2 separate regions of the Homo sapiens genome follow, and region 2 is linked to region 1. Evidence: fine-mapped expression QTL. A gene starts in region 1. The other region holds a variant in brackets. All regions are shown on one strand. Distances are from middle to middle. Region 1 holds the start of ALOX12B (arachidonate 12-lipoxygenase, 12R type). Region 2 overlaps PIK3R6 (phosphoinositide-3-kinase regulatory subunit 6).

Region 1 (8,323 bases):
CAGAGACCTAGCTCGTTTTCATCCCCAGGGCGGAAGACTCACTCCTTTGAGGGCCCTATGGGTGACTCAAGTCTCCCTGTCCTGTTGCGTGGCAGCGGCCCCACCCAACCCCATTCCTGCCTGGCCACCAGCATCACCCTGCCTGTCCCCTGCTTCCATGTCACCCAGACCTGTCACTGCAGGAAGATGCTCTGTGTCCCCAGTGAGACCCTCCCCTTGGCATGCTCACCATCTCCCAGGCTTTCCTCGCCTCTCCTTTCCCCAGCTCAGGCCCTGTTCCCCAATCCTGGGGGAAGATTCCAGCACAGGGCAATGAGAAACGGAAGAGAGGTAGTCAGCTGCAGGGAGGATGGGGCTTCGGGCCCTGGGTGTCCTCAGCTCAGCCTTTCCCTCCCATTCGCCTCAAGGGAAGCCAACAGACACTCAGGTGGTGGAACTGGGAGATAAGAGAGGACAGGCCCCCAGTCCTCATGCAGCACCACAAATTAGGAAGCTGACCCCAGCCCACCACACAAGGGGCTCTGGCAGGGGTGGGTGCAAGGAGCTCAGCCACTCCGGTCCTATGTCTCTCCCATGGGAGTAACCAAGCAAGTGGAAAACCCACTGGGCAGCCTTGGCCAGCCTTAACCTTGGAGAAACCCTGACAGTCTATCTGAATAACAGGGCCCCTATTAGATAGATCCTTACTGGATTAAGGGGGGCCTTTTGGAGTAACAGTGCATCCTGTTAGAGAAATATGGTGTCCTGTTGGGAAAATAGGGAGTCCTTTGGAGCAATAGAACATCCCATCAGTCTAAAAAATGCTCAATTAGAAAACTGGGGCTCATGCCTGTAATGCCAGCACTTTGGGAGGCTGAGGCAGGCAGATCACCTGAGTTCAGGAGTTTGAGACCAGCCTGGCCAACAAAGTGAAACCCCATCTCTACTAAAAATGCAAAAACTAGCATCAGGAGGCTGAGGCAGGAGAATCGCTTGAACCTGGGAGGTGGAGGTTGCAGTGAGCCGAGATCGTGCCATTGCACTCCAGCCTGGGCAACAAGAGTGAAACTCCGTCTCAAAAAAAGAAAGCCAGGGCGTCATAATTATAAGACCGCAGCACCACGGAGACCTGTTGAACTCAAAGGGCTTCTAAATGGGATAGCAAGGTGCTGGTTGGAATAATGGGGCATCCTGTTATAGTAACAGAATCCTGCTGGAGTAACAGGGCGTCTTTCTGGAGCGCATATGATTGGCATCATAAATAGGCCTCCTGTGAGAGTCCTGAGCCTGTACTTAGCATCACAAGGGGTATTTTTAACGTGGCCGGGCATCTTATAGGAGTCAGGGAGGACTGGAGAGGTAGCGGGGAGCGCACTCTGGGAATGCTGTCTGCTGCCAGATGGGGATGCTGAGGGTAGCTGCTGGGCCTCAGGCACCTCTCTTCCTCCAATGTGCAGCCCCAAGCTGAGCTCAGGGCAGCAGCACTGACTGAGGGAAATGTGTGACAGTGGCAGGAGAGCCCAGGAGTCCCTGGTGGGGCTGGGCCCCCCTCTGGCTTGATGGGAGCCTGGGTGCCATGCCAGGGTAGCAGGCTGGAGCTAGAGGCCTCACGGCCATAGGATGGAGCAGGGTGATGAGGGCTTACCTGTGGCCTCCCGGAGTGCCAGGGTCTCGTAGCCATCCATCCACTGGTAGGCGGGGAAGTGGTAGATACGGCCGTTGGGGGCACAGATCTGCACATAGTTGCAGTACCAAGGGTCCTTGGGGAAGAAGGCGTACCGCTCTTTGTGCAGGCGGATGATGATGAGCTCACCCAGGTCCTGAGGGCACTGCACGGTGTACTGGCCCACCTAGGCAGGATGCAAGCCTGGCTGAGTGGGCAGGACTTCACCCCGGCTCCCAGGCCGCCCACCCCTCTGGCCCCTCACCTAGGCCCTGCTCATGCTGCGCAATGCTCACCTCCCTGGACTGACGGAGGGACAGGATATTGACCTGATCATTGAGCTTCCTTCTGACTTCTCCAGCTTGGGGGTCTCCTACTGGATTCCTCTACCCAGGGCTATGTAGGACTCCAGCCCCTCCTTCTCTCCATCCCCAGCTCCTGTCTTCTCCCACTCCCCTCTCCAGGCACCTGAGGTTGCAGGAACCCTTCAGACCCCTGGGGACTTGGGTACCACTCTACAGTTTTCGAGTGGGGAGAGGCCCAGCCAGCCCCTTCTCCCATTCATCAATGAAGATGCAGATATTCAGAATGGCCACATAGATAGAGTGACCTATTAAGGTCGCCTAGCAGCAGGTGGCTGGGTCTGACTGAAAATCAGGTCTGAGGACCCGCAAAGCGTGCCTTCCACTGGACAGGCTGGTCTGATGCCATTTTAAGTCACAGAGAATCCAGTGCAAATGTGAGACAGTTAGGAGGCAGCTGAATTAGGAAGAGTGACTGAGAATGGAAGAGAGAGGGATGCGGGAGAGGGGGTAAGACAGAAAGGGGAGGAGAGCAAAGGGGAAGGAAAGCAGGTGGAAAGGATTGAGAAAAGAGAGATGCAGGATAGGCAGAGACAGGGAGAGAGGGCTGAGGAAGAGGGAGAGAGAAGAAAAGGATGGGGAGGGAGATGAGGAATGCCTGAAAGGGTTAGAGATGAAGGAGCAGGATGGAGAAGGATGGCCCAGAGATCTGGGACATGGGCGAGGGGCTGGAAGCCAGCTCTGGACAAGGCGTGTAGAGCCACTGGGGAGCCCACTGCCTTCGGAGCTGTGCCTCAGCTCTCCAGCCTCTCCTCGCCAAGCTCAGCTCACCTGGCTCCCCCTGCGCACCTTCACCCCTCCCGGGGCCACAAAGACACACAGACACACACAGACACACACAGACACACACACACACACACACAGACACACACACACACACACACACACACACACTCTTACCGCCCCAGTTGCAAAGTCTCTCCCAAAGTGGTTCAGCAGCTGCTTATGGCTCTCTCCTTGTGTCCCCACAATGGTCAGTGAGATGGAGTCCCGTGTTCCCGACAAGAGGTCGGTGCCTGTGGCCACCCTGACTTTGTAGGTGGCCATGGCTGCTCTTCAGGAGGCAAGAGGGGCACTCAGTCCCAGACACCGTGGAGGGGCCACACGAAGGCCCAAGGCAGGCAAGAGAAGCCAGGCACAGAGTGGAGTGGACAGGGCTGGCCTCCGAGGTGCAGTGGTGAGGTGGCGAGGTGGGGTGACTAGGCCTGCCAGCCAAATTCTGGAAAAGCTGCTGCCCTTGGTGGCCGGGGTGGGTGCCGGGCAGGCCCAGGCGGAGCCCAGCTGGTGGTGAGTGAGCAGGTGTCTGGGCTCCAAGCCTTCTGGGAGCTGGTGGGGAGGAAGAGCAGGCAGGGCACTGGGCCTGCCTCTGAAAGGGCGGATAGAAGATGCCGTGGATGAAGGCGCCTTCAGGGTGGGGGAGCCAGTCCAGCCTGAGCCAGGGCCCTAGGGAAGTTGCGGGAGGGGGCAGGGTGTGGTCCCCAGATCTTTATCAGACTAATAAGCTCCTTCCTCCTGCCAGTCCCCATTGGCTACAGTGCCAGGCACCCCTACTAAGCAGGGCCATGGGCAGTGAGTGACTTGCATTGGTTCTGAGGCCACTGGTGGGCGGGGGAGGGGAGGGGGAGGGGCACTAAGTGGCAGCGCAGCTGGCCAGCCTCCAGGCCATTCCTCTCTGGGAAATGGGACAGGTAGTGGCCACAGTGAGAAAGCTGGCCTGTCCTTCTGCCCCAGGGCCCAGAGTCTGTGACTGGAAGGGTGGGAGGTGTTGAAGCTAGGGCTCGGGGACCACATGGGTGCCCAAAGGCCTGAAGATGCTGCGGGGAGGAACGATCAGGGTAGGAGAAGGGGATCTGTTGCTTCCTGTGGGGCCAGGATCCACTGGTGAGGGATTGGAGTTGGATATAAAATCAGAAGCCCAAAAAAAAAAAAAAAAAAACTAAATTAGAAGACAGAGTGAAATCTGGGGCATAAGAATTAAGTTAAATAGCTGGGCGTGGTGGCTCACGCCTGTAATCCCAGCACTTTAGAAAGCCAAGGCAGGTGGGTCACCTGAGCTCAAGAGTTCGAGACCAGCCTGGCCAACATGGTGAAACCTTGTCTCTACTAAAAATACAAAAATTAGCCAGGCGTGGTGGCATGCGCCTGTAGTCCCAGCTACTTGGGAGGCTGAGGCAGGAGAATCGCTTGAACTCAGGAGGCGGAAGTTGCAGTGAGTTGAGATCGTGCCACCGCACTCCAGCCTGGGCAACAGAGCAAGACTCCGTCTCCAAAAAAAAAAGACAAAAGAATTAAGTTAAATAATGGATTAATATGATCAATATTTTGTGGTATAATCATAAAATAGAATTCTACCCAGGAATAAAAAGAATGAACTGCAATGCGGATGAGTCTCACAAAGATGATACTGAGCAAAAAGAGCCAGACATTAAAGGGGATACGTTCTGTTATCCATTGATAGGAACTTCCAGAACCAGCAAAACTGAGCAATTCTCAGACAACCTCTACTGGTGAGTATCCCTGGCAGAGGGAGGCCATATAGGCTGCTGGAGGTGTTCTTATCTTGATCTGAGGGGCGTCTAGGGTACTTCATTCATTTCATTATGTGTTATCCTTTAATTTCATAAAGTACATACCCTCACTTCCCTCCCAAAAAAGAATGAAGCTAGGAAGAGGGCTGGAGGCAGGGCTGAGCTCCAGTGGAACTGTGTTTGTTGGGAACCAGGTCGTTCCTCCCTCAGATATGTAGTGAGCACGGTGCACGGCGTTCTAGGCACTGCAGAGGCAGAGAAGAAATGAAACATACATGGAGCTTACGGAATAGCTGGGAAAGAAGTGAAAGAAACAGTAAACAAGAATTTGTTCACTATAATTTTGGATACTAAGTGCTCTGAAGAAAATAAGCGTGGGAGGTTGGGATTGGGAACTAGTTGCTGATAGAATCACAGAAGTCAGAGCCGCAGGATAGGGAGAAGGTGTTAGGAGTAAGGTGAAGAGCATTATGAGAGAGTCAGAGATAGACTCTCCAAAGATAGGATTTGGGACCCAGGGAGAGTGAGGAGGCAGGCACGTTCCTATTCCCTTTTTCTGGACCTGTCCTCTTTCCTTTCACCTCCGAGGAGCAGCTTCTGTCAACCAGGAAGCATAGCCCTGCTTTCCTCCCTGATGGCACGCTTCCATCACCATCGAAGGAAGGTCATTCAATGCCCAGGCCAAGTTAGGGTCAGAGGGGGCTGGGATTGTGAGATGAAGAGAAGGTTCCAGTAGGTTCCAGACTGGATGTGGAATGGGGTCGAAACTGCAATTCAGGTTTAGGTTAGAGACACAGATGTGGCTGGAGTTGGGGATTGAAATGATCTTTTCCAGACCCAAATCTGTTCACATCACTCTCTATGTTCCCTCCTCCCAACCCTGATCAAGCCTGGCAGTGGCTCCTCTTTACCTTTGGGACAGTGACACCATCCCCTCCCGTGGCCCCCACGGCCTGCCTGATTGGCTTCACCCCTCACATTCCCCTTTGCTCTCTTCTGTCTGGGACCACGTGCCTTTCATTCATTCATCAACAGACACTGGCCGAACCCCTACTGTGTGTTCAGCGCTGTGTCAGGTCCTGAAAATACAATGCGATCAAAGCAAACCCCTGCACCCATGGAGCTTGCCTTCAAGTGAGGGAAGCAGACAATATTACCTAGTAACCAAATACATTAAATAGTATGTTAAATAGTGATAAGTGCTGAAGAGAAAAGAGAGAACAGGGAAGGATAATATAAAAAATAGAGGAGTGCCGGGCATGGTGGCTCATGCCTGTAATCCCAGCACTTTGGGAGGCTGAGGTGGGCGGATCACCTGAGGTCAGGAGTTCGGGACCAGCCTGACCAACATGGAGTAACCCCGTCTCTACTAAAAATAAAAATTAGCCGGGCATGGTGGCGCATGCCTGTAATCCCAGCTACTCGGGGGCTGAGGCAGGAGAATAGCTTGAACCCAGGAAGCAGAGGTTGCAGTGAGCCAAGGTCATGCCATTGCTATCAAGCCTGGGCAACAAAAGCGAAAATCCATCTCAGAAAAAAGAAAAGGAGGATATTTTAGATACAGAGTGGCCAAGGAGGGCTCCTTGGGAAGAAGACTTTTGAGTAAAGACCTGAAGGAAGTGAAGTCAGCTCGTCACCATCCCAGGGCCTTGGCACATGCTGTTCCCTCTCTACCTCTCAAACTGAGGTCACGTTTCCTCTTCCTCCTGATCTTAGCTCAATAATTGCTTTTTCCAGGAAAGCCAAATTTCACTATACATGGCTCTCACAGCACTATAGCTAACATCTTTGATTGATGTCTGTTTTCTCTAATAAATTAGTCCATACTTTTTTTTGGTTTTGTCCCCATCTCCTGGTGTCATACTTGGTACCTGGGAGACACCGAAAACATAGTTGAATGGGTTAATGACAAGGACAAGGTCAGGGCTGGGGATTGAATCGATGATGGCTTTGGAGTTATGGTGAAGATCCGAAGAGAGCTGACTTGGGCTCAGGGTGAGAGAAGGGGCAAGGCGTGGTGTAGGGGAGGGAAAGGGGTTGGGTGGGGAGGGAGGGAGGAGAGGGGAGAAGGCTGAGGATGAGGGTTGTGCCCAGCTCTGGGTGGCAGGGCTGGCTGTCCTGGGCTGCAGACAGAAGCCGTCCAGCTGGATCTCCCCCCTGGGATCTCCCTCCTCAACCACCTCGATGACTCTTGGAGGATGCTGGGAGCCTGAAGATGCAAATCTTAAGATGCAAATTCCATGCAAATTCTCCCAGCTTCCTCTTTCTAATCTCTCCCCTTTGCCCTGTGTCCCCAGGGGGCTGCTGAGGCTTGGTGAGAAGCAGGGCAGTGGACTGGGCAAACTGAGTCATATCCTGCTACCAATAGGTCTCCTCCAACCCAAATCCCAGGGTGGCCCTGGGTTTGCTCAGGGCTCCAGTGTGGAGTGGGAATTAGGTTCCTGAGGGAGACGGAGATGGAGGCAGGGATGCTGAGGATGTCAATGTGGCTGGGGCAGGGACAGGGACGGGATCAGGCATGAGGATGTAGATGGGGCACTCCCCAGCTATGACCAAAACGTAGACGCGTGACTCTTGATAGGTGCTCATTGGGCTGAAGAACTGGTTCTCCTGGACCAGGGGCGGGAGCCAGTGAGGAGGAGAGGTTTCTGGGAAGGATTCACACTCACTGGGGTTGCTAACTAGGGGCCATCCACACAGGAAGCTGAGTTCTCACTGCTGGGGTATCCCCCGTGCCTGACCCCACCCCAAGCCCTGCAAGGCAAGGAGCAACTAACTCCTGGGGACCCACTCTCCTAAGACACAGAGAAAGAAAAATCAAATCACGCCACTCCCCTGCTTAAAGTTCACCAGAGCTTAAAATGGGGTTGTCCGTAGAAATGAATCCAAGGGCCAGGCGCGGTGGCTCATGCCCATAATCCCAGCACTTTGGGAGGCCAACACAGGCGGATCATGAGGTCGGGAGTTCAAGACCAGCCTGACCAACATGGTAAAACCCCGTCTCTACTAAAAATACAAAAATTAGCCGGGCGTTGTGGCACGCGCCTGTAATCCCAGCTATTCAGGAGGCTGAGACGGGAGAATCGCTTGAACAGGGGAGGTGGAGATTGCAGTAAGCCAAGATAGCGCCACTGCACTCCAGCCTGGGCAATAGAGAGAGACTCCGTCTCAAAAAAAAAAAAAAAGAAAGAAAGAAAGAAAGAAAAGAGACGAATCCAAGGACTTATCATGTCTACAAGACCATGCCTTCCCGACACCTTTTTCCAGCCACTCTGGCCTTCTTGCTGTACCCAGAACATGTGTCCTTCAGGACCCTTGCATTTGCCATTCCTGGGTTTGTAATACCCTTCCCCCAAGCTGTTCAAGCTGTTTCAACCAAGCTGTTCAAGCTGTTTCAAGAGTGGTTTTGTTTGTTTGTTTGTTTGTTTGTTTGTTTTGAGACGGTGTCTCACTCTGTCACCTAGGCTGGAGTGCAGTGGTGCAATCTCAGCTCACTGCAACCTCCACCTCTCAGGCTCAAGCGATCCTCCCACCTTGGTCTCCCGAGTAGCTGGGACCACAGGCGTAGTCCACCTGGCTAATTTTTTGTATCTTTTGGTAGAGATGGGATTTTGCCACGTGGCCGGGACTGGTCTCAAACTCCTGAGCTCAAGCGATTTGCCTGTCTCAGCCTCCCAAAGTGCTGGGATTACAGGAGTGAGCCACCGCACCCGACCCTAAGCGTGTGTTGTTCATGTCATCCAGGTCTCAACTCTAGTGTCACCTCCTCAGAGTCCCTCCCTGACCACCGT
Region 2 (8,323 bases), 750 kb after region 1:
CTCATGCACGCATACACACACACTGACACACACTCATGCATACACACACACTGACACACGCATGCACACAGACACACACTCATGCACACATACACACACAGACACACTGACACACACTCATGCATACACACACTGACACACGCATGCACACTGACACACACTCATGCACGCATACACACACAGACACAGACATATACCACTGTTTCCAGACAGCTCCATGGGCACGTACAGAGCTGCTCCTCACCGGTCCACAAGTGGAAGGTGATGTAGGGGCTGGGCAGGGGAATGCTTGGTGGCCGCTCTTGGACAAGGTCACCTGCAGAAAGGAGCAGGCTGTGGAGGCCATGGAGGAGGCCATGGGACCCTCCTCTGCCCTCCCCATCCTGCCCAGCTCCTGTGCGGGGTCTTAGAGAGGTGGCAGGGACTCTCTCCTTCACATCTGGTCTGCCTTTCCATCTCTGCCACCACCAGCCCATCCAGGGCCCAACAGTGCAGCTGTCCCCTCCCTGTCCAACAATGCTTAGTAGCTACGTTTTCTCAAACCTAGCTCAACCCTTAGGGGGTCTTCACAAACCAGCTCACAAGGCCTTTTCCAACCTATGCTCCTATGCTGGCCATGCCTTCAGCCCTGTGCAGCTGCCAGACTGGCTTTCCCACTGTTCTTAAAATGCCCTGCCTGCATCCAGACGAGGCAGGAAAGACCCCTGCCCTTCTCAGGGCTGCTTCCAATATCTTGCATGCAGTAGACACTCAGTTAACATTTGCAGCTGTCGGCGATGCTGACGAGAACTCATCAACAAAGTTTGGGGGCAGCAGGAACCCCGGGCAGTCCAGGGGAGAGACAAAGGACAGCCCTTCTTCCTGCTTCTCTTTCTAGAATCTTTTCTGACCACTCCAGTGGCCCGCGGTGGTCATTCCCTCCGAGCAGACTGTCTGCACACTGGGCACACCTCACATGTGGTCTTAGGATTTGGCTCCGTATTCCCGTTTCACTTCTATATTGCTGTGGCTCCCCACTCATGAGGCTGCAAGCTTCTTAGGGGAGAGCAGCTAGTGTTCACTGAGCACCTACTGCCTGCCAGGCCTTATTCTACTCACCTGGCACACACTGTAATCATTTCTCTGGATCCTGCCAATGGCCCTGGGCAACAGGTGACATTATTATCCTCAATTTACAGGGGAGAAGCCAGGACACAGAGAGGTTGAATAACTGGCCCAAGGTCACATAGTAAATAGTACAGTGACGACTTGAGCCCAGGCAGCTCAGCTCCAGAGTTCCTGCTCTTACCCACAACACTGTGCTTATAATCACCACTCCATACTGCCCCCTACAGCCACAGGGGCTTGACGGGGGTGCTGCCTGGTCATTAAGATGCACAGGGCTTGGCCGGGCACGGTGGCTCATGCCTGTAATCCCAGCACTTTGGGACGCCGAGGAGGGTGGATCACGAGGTCAGGAGATCGCAACCATCCTGGCTAACACGGTGAAACCCCGTCTCTACTAAAAAAACACAAAAAAATTAGCTGGGCATGGTGGCAGGCGCCTGTAGTCCCAGCTACTCGGGAGGCTGAGGCAGGAGAATGGCGTGAACCCAGGAGGCAGAGCTTGCAGTGAGCGGAGATTGAGCCACTGCACTCCAGCCTGGGTGACTGAGCAAGATTGTGTCTCAAAAAAAAAAAAAAAAAAAAAAAGATGCACAGGGCTTAGCCAGGTGTGGTGGCACGTGCCTGTGGTCCCAGCTAGTCGAAAGGCTGAGGTGGGAGGATCGCTTAAGCCCAGGAGGTCAAGGCTGCAGTGAGCCATGATCGAGCCACTGCACTCCAGCCTGGGTGACAGAGCAAGACCCTGTCTAAAAAAAAAAAAAAAAAAAAAAAAAAGGCACAGGGCAAGTCTGGGCAGGAGACAGGTGCCCTTGGATGTGTCTTGGGGGTGGCCCAGATGGTCTTAATTAATCCATGCAGAGTCACTGGTGAGTGTTAGCAAGGGGCCACAAGGGGAGCAAAGCCAGATTGGCCCCAGGGTTAGTCCCAGCTTGGGGTACAGGAGGAGCTTTTTCCATGTGGGATCAGAGGCAGTGTAGAATGTTAAAGTAAAAGAGCGGACAACTTCGAAGATGGAGTCTTTAGGCAGGGACTATCCTGCCCACCTCACCCAACTGCTGTGGCCTCCACCCAACCTGGGCTGCCAAGTTCAAACCCAGGGCCTGGCACACTAACCTCTTCCGGTGGATTCCAGTCCTTAACCCCATGCCTTATAATGACAGGTGCACGATCAGTGACTGTGCATATCTGGGACATGCAGGCTGACATATTCCATGATACTTTGAATGACCACGAAATAGGACCCAAATCAGAACCATCCTACAACAGCCAGGAAACACATATTCGGGACGTTTCTCTGGGCTATTTCAGATGCCCCCATCCACATGGGGCTTGTGTCAGGGTAGGCATTATCTTACCTACATTATGCCTTGCATAAGATAAGGCGTTATCTTATAAATATGCAAATAGGAAGGGTGAGGAATAAAAATCTATGATACCAGATATAAACGATGTTGACTCATCTGCTCTTTTAGATGCTCTGGTCCTTGGACGATCAAATCCTTGGATTACTGCAGCTGAGTAGTGAACTAGACAGCCTGGATTTGTATCTTGGCTTTGCCATTTACTGCCTTGGGTGATCTTGGGCAAGATATTTAACCTCTTTCTAACTCAGTTTCGTCCTCTGTAAAATGGGGATAATAATAGTTTCTGCTTATAAGTTGACTGTGAGGTTTCATTGATTTAATACAGTATACGCAATATATTTAAATATATGTAAGGTGATTAGAACAGCAACTGGAGTATAGTAGGGGCTCTGTGGGCATCGGCGGTTATCATGACCAAATTACCCACCTTCTTTTTTTTTTTTTTTTTTTTTTTTTGAGACGGAGTCTCGCTCTGTCGCCCAGGCTGGAGTACAGTAGTGTGATCTCGGCTCACTGCAACCTCCGCCTCCCTGGTTCAAGTGATTCTCCTAACTCAGCATCCCGAGTAGCTGGGACTGCAGGTGCCCACCACCACGCCCAGCTGATTTTTTTTTTTTTTTGAGACTAAACCCTCTACTACTTTAGTAGAGGGTTTCCCCATGTTGCCTAGGCTGGTCTCGAAACCCTGACCTCAGGTGATCCGCCTGCCTCGGCCTCCCAAAATGCTGGGTTAACAGGCGTGAGCCACCGCTCCCAGCCTAATTACCCGCCTCTTAGTCCCGGTCCTGCCAAACCCCCAGGCTGCCCCCAGTCCCCAGGCTCCTGGGAGTCGGCCAGGCACCCAGACAGAGGCAGGTCCAGCGCTGCTCTCTGGCGCCCCCTGCTGTGCAGTGAGCTGCCCCCGCGGGACTCTTGCCAAGGCCCCCCATCTGCCAGTCGCTTACCACCGCAGCGCCCCGCCGCGGGACCCAGCAGCGAGCAGTAAATCTCCTCCAGCCTCTCTACGTGTCCCTCCCGGCTCGGGCTGGCCTCGCTGGCCATCTGCTCCAAGGCGGCCACCACGGCGTGGAAATAGTGCTCCAGGGTGCGGCGAGGGCTGGCCTGTTGGGGAGGGGCGTCAGAGCCTGGGTCTTGGCCCAGCGCCCACGCACCCCAGCTCCTAAGCCAAGTCCGCAGGGCCCTGGCAGCCCAAGGTGACACCTCTCCGCTGCCCCTGGGGGCCCGGCAGGAGCTTCCCCCGAAGGCTTCTGGATCCCACATCCAGGGCCCTATGCCTGCCCTGCAAGTGGGGGTTCCCCTCTGCCCCTCACACGCTATTATGGGGAGACTACTGGTCTGCAATGTCTGTTACCCAGAGAGGCAGAGATAGCCACTGACGCCCACTTCCTGAAAGCGTCACCCAGCACTTGGATCAATGTTCTAGCCCCCACTAGATTGTGAATTCCAGGAATTCACAGGGAATTTTGTCTGTTTCATTCATAGCTGCATCTCCAGCACTTAGAATAGCTCACTGCACCAGGTGTTGTTCTAGGGGCTGGGATACAGCAGCAAACAAAAGAGATTGTGTGATCTGGGAAGCCCCCCCTGAGAAAGTGACTTTTTTTTTTTTTTTTTTGAGACG[G/A]AGTCTTGCTCTGTCACCCAGGCTGGAGTGCAGTGGTGTGACTTTGGCTCATTGCAACCTCTGCCTCCTGGGTTCAAGCGATTCTCCTGCCTCAGCCTCCCGAGTATCTGGGACTACAGGTGCGCACCACCACATCCAGCCAATTTTTGTATTTTTAGTAGAGACGGGGTTTCACCATGTTGGCCAGGACGGTCTCGATCTCCTGACCTCATGATCTGCCTGCCTTGGCCTCCCAAAGTGTTGGGATTACAGGCGTGAACCACCGCGCTTGGCCGAAAGTGACTTTTAGGTAAAGACTTGAAGTGAAAGAGTGAGCCATGCAGCCCAGCGCGGTGGCTCACGCTTGTAATCTCAGCACTTTGGAAGGCCGGGGTAGGTGGATCACGAGGTCAGGAGATGGAGACCACGGTGAAACCCCGTCTCTACTAAAAATAGAAAAAATTAGCTGGGTGTGGTGGCCGGCGCCTGTAGTCCCAGCTACTCAGAGAGGCTGAGGCAGGAGAATGGCGTGAACCCAGGAGGCGGAGCTTGCAGTGAGCCGAGATCACGCCACTGCACTCCAGCCTGGGCAACAGAGCAAGACTTCGTCTCAAAAAAAAAAAAAAAAAAAAAAGAGTGAGTCGTGCAGGTATCTAAGAGAACGTTCCAAGCATAGGGAGTAGCCAGCGCAAAGGCCCTGGGGTGCAAGTATGTTAGGCATGTGCATGTTGGGAGACAAATGAGGAGGCTTGTTTAGCTGGAGCAGAGGAAATGAGAGGGAAAGTTAGGAGACAGGCCAGAGAGGAAATGAAGAGAGATGGGAACAGGTCAAGGCCCTCAAGATGAGGTTCTTGTATTTTTATTTTTAGAGATGGGGTGTCTCTCTGTTACCCAGGCTAGAGTGCAGTGGTACAGTCACAGCTCACTGCAGCCTTGAACTTGGCTCAAGTGATCCTCTTGTCTTCCGAGTAGCTGGGACTGCAAACACATGTCACTGCGTCTGGTATTTTTTTTTTTTTATTACTTTTTGTAGAAATGGGGTCTTGCTATGTTGCCCAGGCTGGTCTCAAACCCCTGGCCTTAAGCAATCCTCCTGCCTCGGCCTCTCAAGTACCTGCAATTATAGGCATGAACCACCACACCAGGCTCTTATAGGTCATTGCAATCACTTTGGCTTTGACTCCGAGTGAGATGATGTAGTAGCTACTGTTGTGGTGACCCAGATTCCTGCTTTCGGGGCTGAGACACTCATTCACCCTGCTGCTAGGAATACTGGCATTATCTTATATCTTATTATTGGTTTTTTTTTTGGAAATGGAGTCTCTCTCTGTCACCCAGGCTGGAGTGCAGTGGCACAATCTTGGCTCACTGCAACCTCCACTTTCCGGGTTCAAGCTATTCTCCTGCCTCAGCCTCCAGAGTAGCTAGGATTACAGGTGCCCGCCACCACGGCCAGTTAGTTTTTGTATCTTTAGTAGAGACTGGATTTCGCCATGTTGGCCAGGCTGGTCTTGAACTCCTGACCTCAGGTGATACACCCGCCTCAGCCTCCCAAAGTGCTGGGGTTATAGGTGTGAGCCACTGCGCCCAGCCAAAATGTATTAATTTTTGATTTGGGGGAAAAGGTGATGCGAAACAGGAGAAGGAGGAAGAGCAGGGTGAATGACTGGTATGGGCATGCAGGGACGAGGGCTGGGACTGACAAGGGGCTGCAGGCAGGGCCATTACCTGCAGCTTCCTGTGCAGAGCGCCTGCGTGACAGGCCTCCCCCAGAGCCGCCTGCAGGGCGTGGGAGACCACGTGGCGCATGCAGGTCTCTGGTGTCTGCTGCGCCTGGGCCGCCTCGATCTCCAGTAGCAGAGCACTGCACACAGACGCAGACACCAGCTCAGGATCCACGAAGAGGAACACTCTGAGGGCAGAAGCAGAGGGGAGAGGTGGGATTGATAGTAACTAATGGGAGAGGGGCCACCGGATGGGCACCCTCAGAGCTGTGCAGCACCTCCAAGTAATTTAATTCTGCTAAAAAGAGGAGTCTCAGATTCAAAAGTCTCTGGGTGGGATGACAATAGGGAGTGGTGAGGACTGTGGCAAATAAGAGCATGCACAGCCCTTCTAGAGGGGCAGCTCTAATCCACTGTCCACAGAGGAAAGCAGGCCTAGTCCCATGTTTAGGAAAGTTCCAGCCTCAATCCTGCTCCCTCTCTCAGCATCCTGGCCCAGGGACCAGGTCACCCTCTAGGAGGGACCCTAAATCCTTCCTGCCAGAACTGGAGTTCTGAACTCTGAGTGAATCTCACCTTCTTTCATCACTCTTATCACACCAGAGAGCCAACCTCCCCTACTCCCTCCTCCTCACCCACTGTGTCTCCCCACCTCTCCCATGGGTGCCCTGGGCCTCCTTGCATCTTTCATGAACTCAGCACCTCACACCCCAAACTCAAGCTGTGCCTTTCAGGGCCAAGTTAGTGGAGGTGCCTGCAGAAGAGGGAGGTGCCGCTCCCAACTTCATCACCCCTCTCCCCAACACGAGCAGGGGACACTTCCTCAGTCTTATCTAAGAGGCTTGGCGTCCCCCATGGAAGCCCTCTGGCTTCATTGTGCACTTGCGCCTGAGCCCCTCCGCTATGGCTATTCTGGAGTCTCCTCTGGCTGCCTGGCTGGTATGATGCTGCATTATGGCCAAGGGCAGGATGGAGGTGGAATGACAGAGCCCCAGAGTGGCCCCGAGGCCATGTCCACCTTCTGCATGTGAGCAGGGTAGCTTCCAATCCAACCTGAGAAGAAAGACCTATCCTGTGTTCAGTGGTCTCCAGAAAACAATATGGCGCCAACCTTGAATGGCAAACGCACCCCACTGCTGGACAAATATCATGGCTGGGGAGGTCTGCTAGGGCTCTTCTTAATCCAGCCTCCTCTTTTGTCCTCCTGCCAGGGAGCAGTCACTAAAGCCACAACAGTTTTAGGAGGCTGAAGGTAGCAATTTTTCTGGGGCCACTCACCTCTCCTGGTAGGGATACAGCTCATTCGTCAAGTTCTGTTCGGCAATGACCATCCTTTGGTACAGTGTCCCTGCAAACCAGACCACTTTGGCCAAACAGCCCCCAAGTCTCTGACTCCCATTCTCCACCTTCCTACAGAAGGTGTGGAGGCTTTTGAGCTCCCCGGTATCCTGGAGAAAAAGGAAAGACCCTGGGCAATGTTGGAGGTGCAGCGTGGGAGACAAAGATGCCCAGTGACTCTTACCTGGGACAGCCATCTCCGTTTTCAGCCTTATCGCGCAGTCCAAGGCGACTGTGCAGTAGGGGGTGGGCAGGGTCAGTAACCTTGTGCAAAAGGCATAGATTCTCTGGTAGAGCTCTTCTGTGATTCCTGTGGCCTGGGTGAGAGGGAGGAGGGGGAGGTGAGAGGGAGGAGGTGGAGGTAAGAGGGAGGAGGGGGAGGTGAAGGGTCCCGGGGGAGTTTCCGGGGAGGGGCTTGGGAGAAGAGGTGGAAGGTCAGGCCTAACAGCCAGACCTGGGCTCACAGCTCTCTCCCAAACCCACACCTTCCAGCCTCTTCTCCCAGCACCTGTAAGACATCCATTTGTCGCCCCGCCCCAACTTACCAAGATAAAAATTCATTGCATCAAGTTATGCAAGCAAATCAACTTCCTCCCAGCCCTCCTGCTCCATCAGGGAAGCACATTCCTGCGGTTCTCCAGGCTCAAAACCATGGAGGCACTTCCTCAGTCTCCTTTGCTCCTCCTTGCATCCCACAGGCCTGAAATGCTCCACAGTGCCCGGGAGGCCCCCCTCTCCCTCCCGACCTCAGTGTGCCCTCCGTCTCTGCCGGAGCTAAGCCCCATCTTGACCCTGGACTCTCCAGCAACCCCAGACTTGGTCTTCCTGCCTGCCTTAACCACCACTCCCACCCGCTGCAACAACACGCAGCTCCCGATTACTCCTCCTGAGACATTAACCACATGAGTATCATGTCTCTTCTCTGTGTAGGGATCAGTGATGTCTCCTGTTGCACTGCACACAGGAGCAAACCCAAAGACCTCATCCTGCCTTTCAAGGCCATTGTCTCTCCAGAGTTCTCTCTCCATATGGGAGGGAAAGGGGGTGGCTAGTGCTCAGAAGCCAGTTTAGGGCAGGCAATCCAAGGGATTTTCTAGGCTCATCCTGGCGGAGACTGAGTGCCCACTAAGGGGAGAGTGTCCAGCCCAGCCACATGCAGGTCACCACTACCACCTCGACCTCAGTCCCCAGCT

The links.
Region 2: its variant is fine-mapped to the expression of ALOX12B in stomach (GTEx, PIP 0.97).

The regions. Positions count from the first base shown.
Region 1 is chr17:8,084,392-8,092,714 of GRCh38, forward strand. ALOX12B (arachidonate 12-lipoxygenase, 12R type) reads right to left here and starts at 3,325. Exons shown (of 15, transcript NM_001139.3): 1 at 2,905-3,325; 2 at 1,625-1,829. The coding sequence starts at 3,051. It overlaps MIR4314 (microRNA 4314), which reads left to right and starts at 3,665; the gene lies at 3,665-3,756. RefSeq lists an enhancer at 2,353-3,101.
Region 2 is chr17:8,829,477-8,837,799 of GRCh38, forward strand. PIK3R6 (phosphoinositide-3-kinase regulatory subunit 6) reads right to left here. Exons shown (of 20, transcript NM_001010855.4): 6 at 7,315-7,447; 7 at 7,071-7,140; 8 at 5,797-5,980; 9 at 3,413-3,569; 10 at 230-316. Among named protein-coding and RNA genes, the nearest start is that of PIK3R6, 34 kb to the right of the region's middle. RefSeq lists enhancers at 3,745-3,824, 7,350-8,156. The variant G/A (reference allele first, on the strand shown) is at 4,090.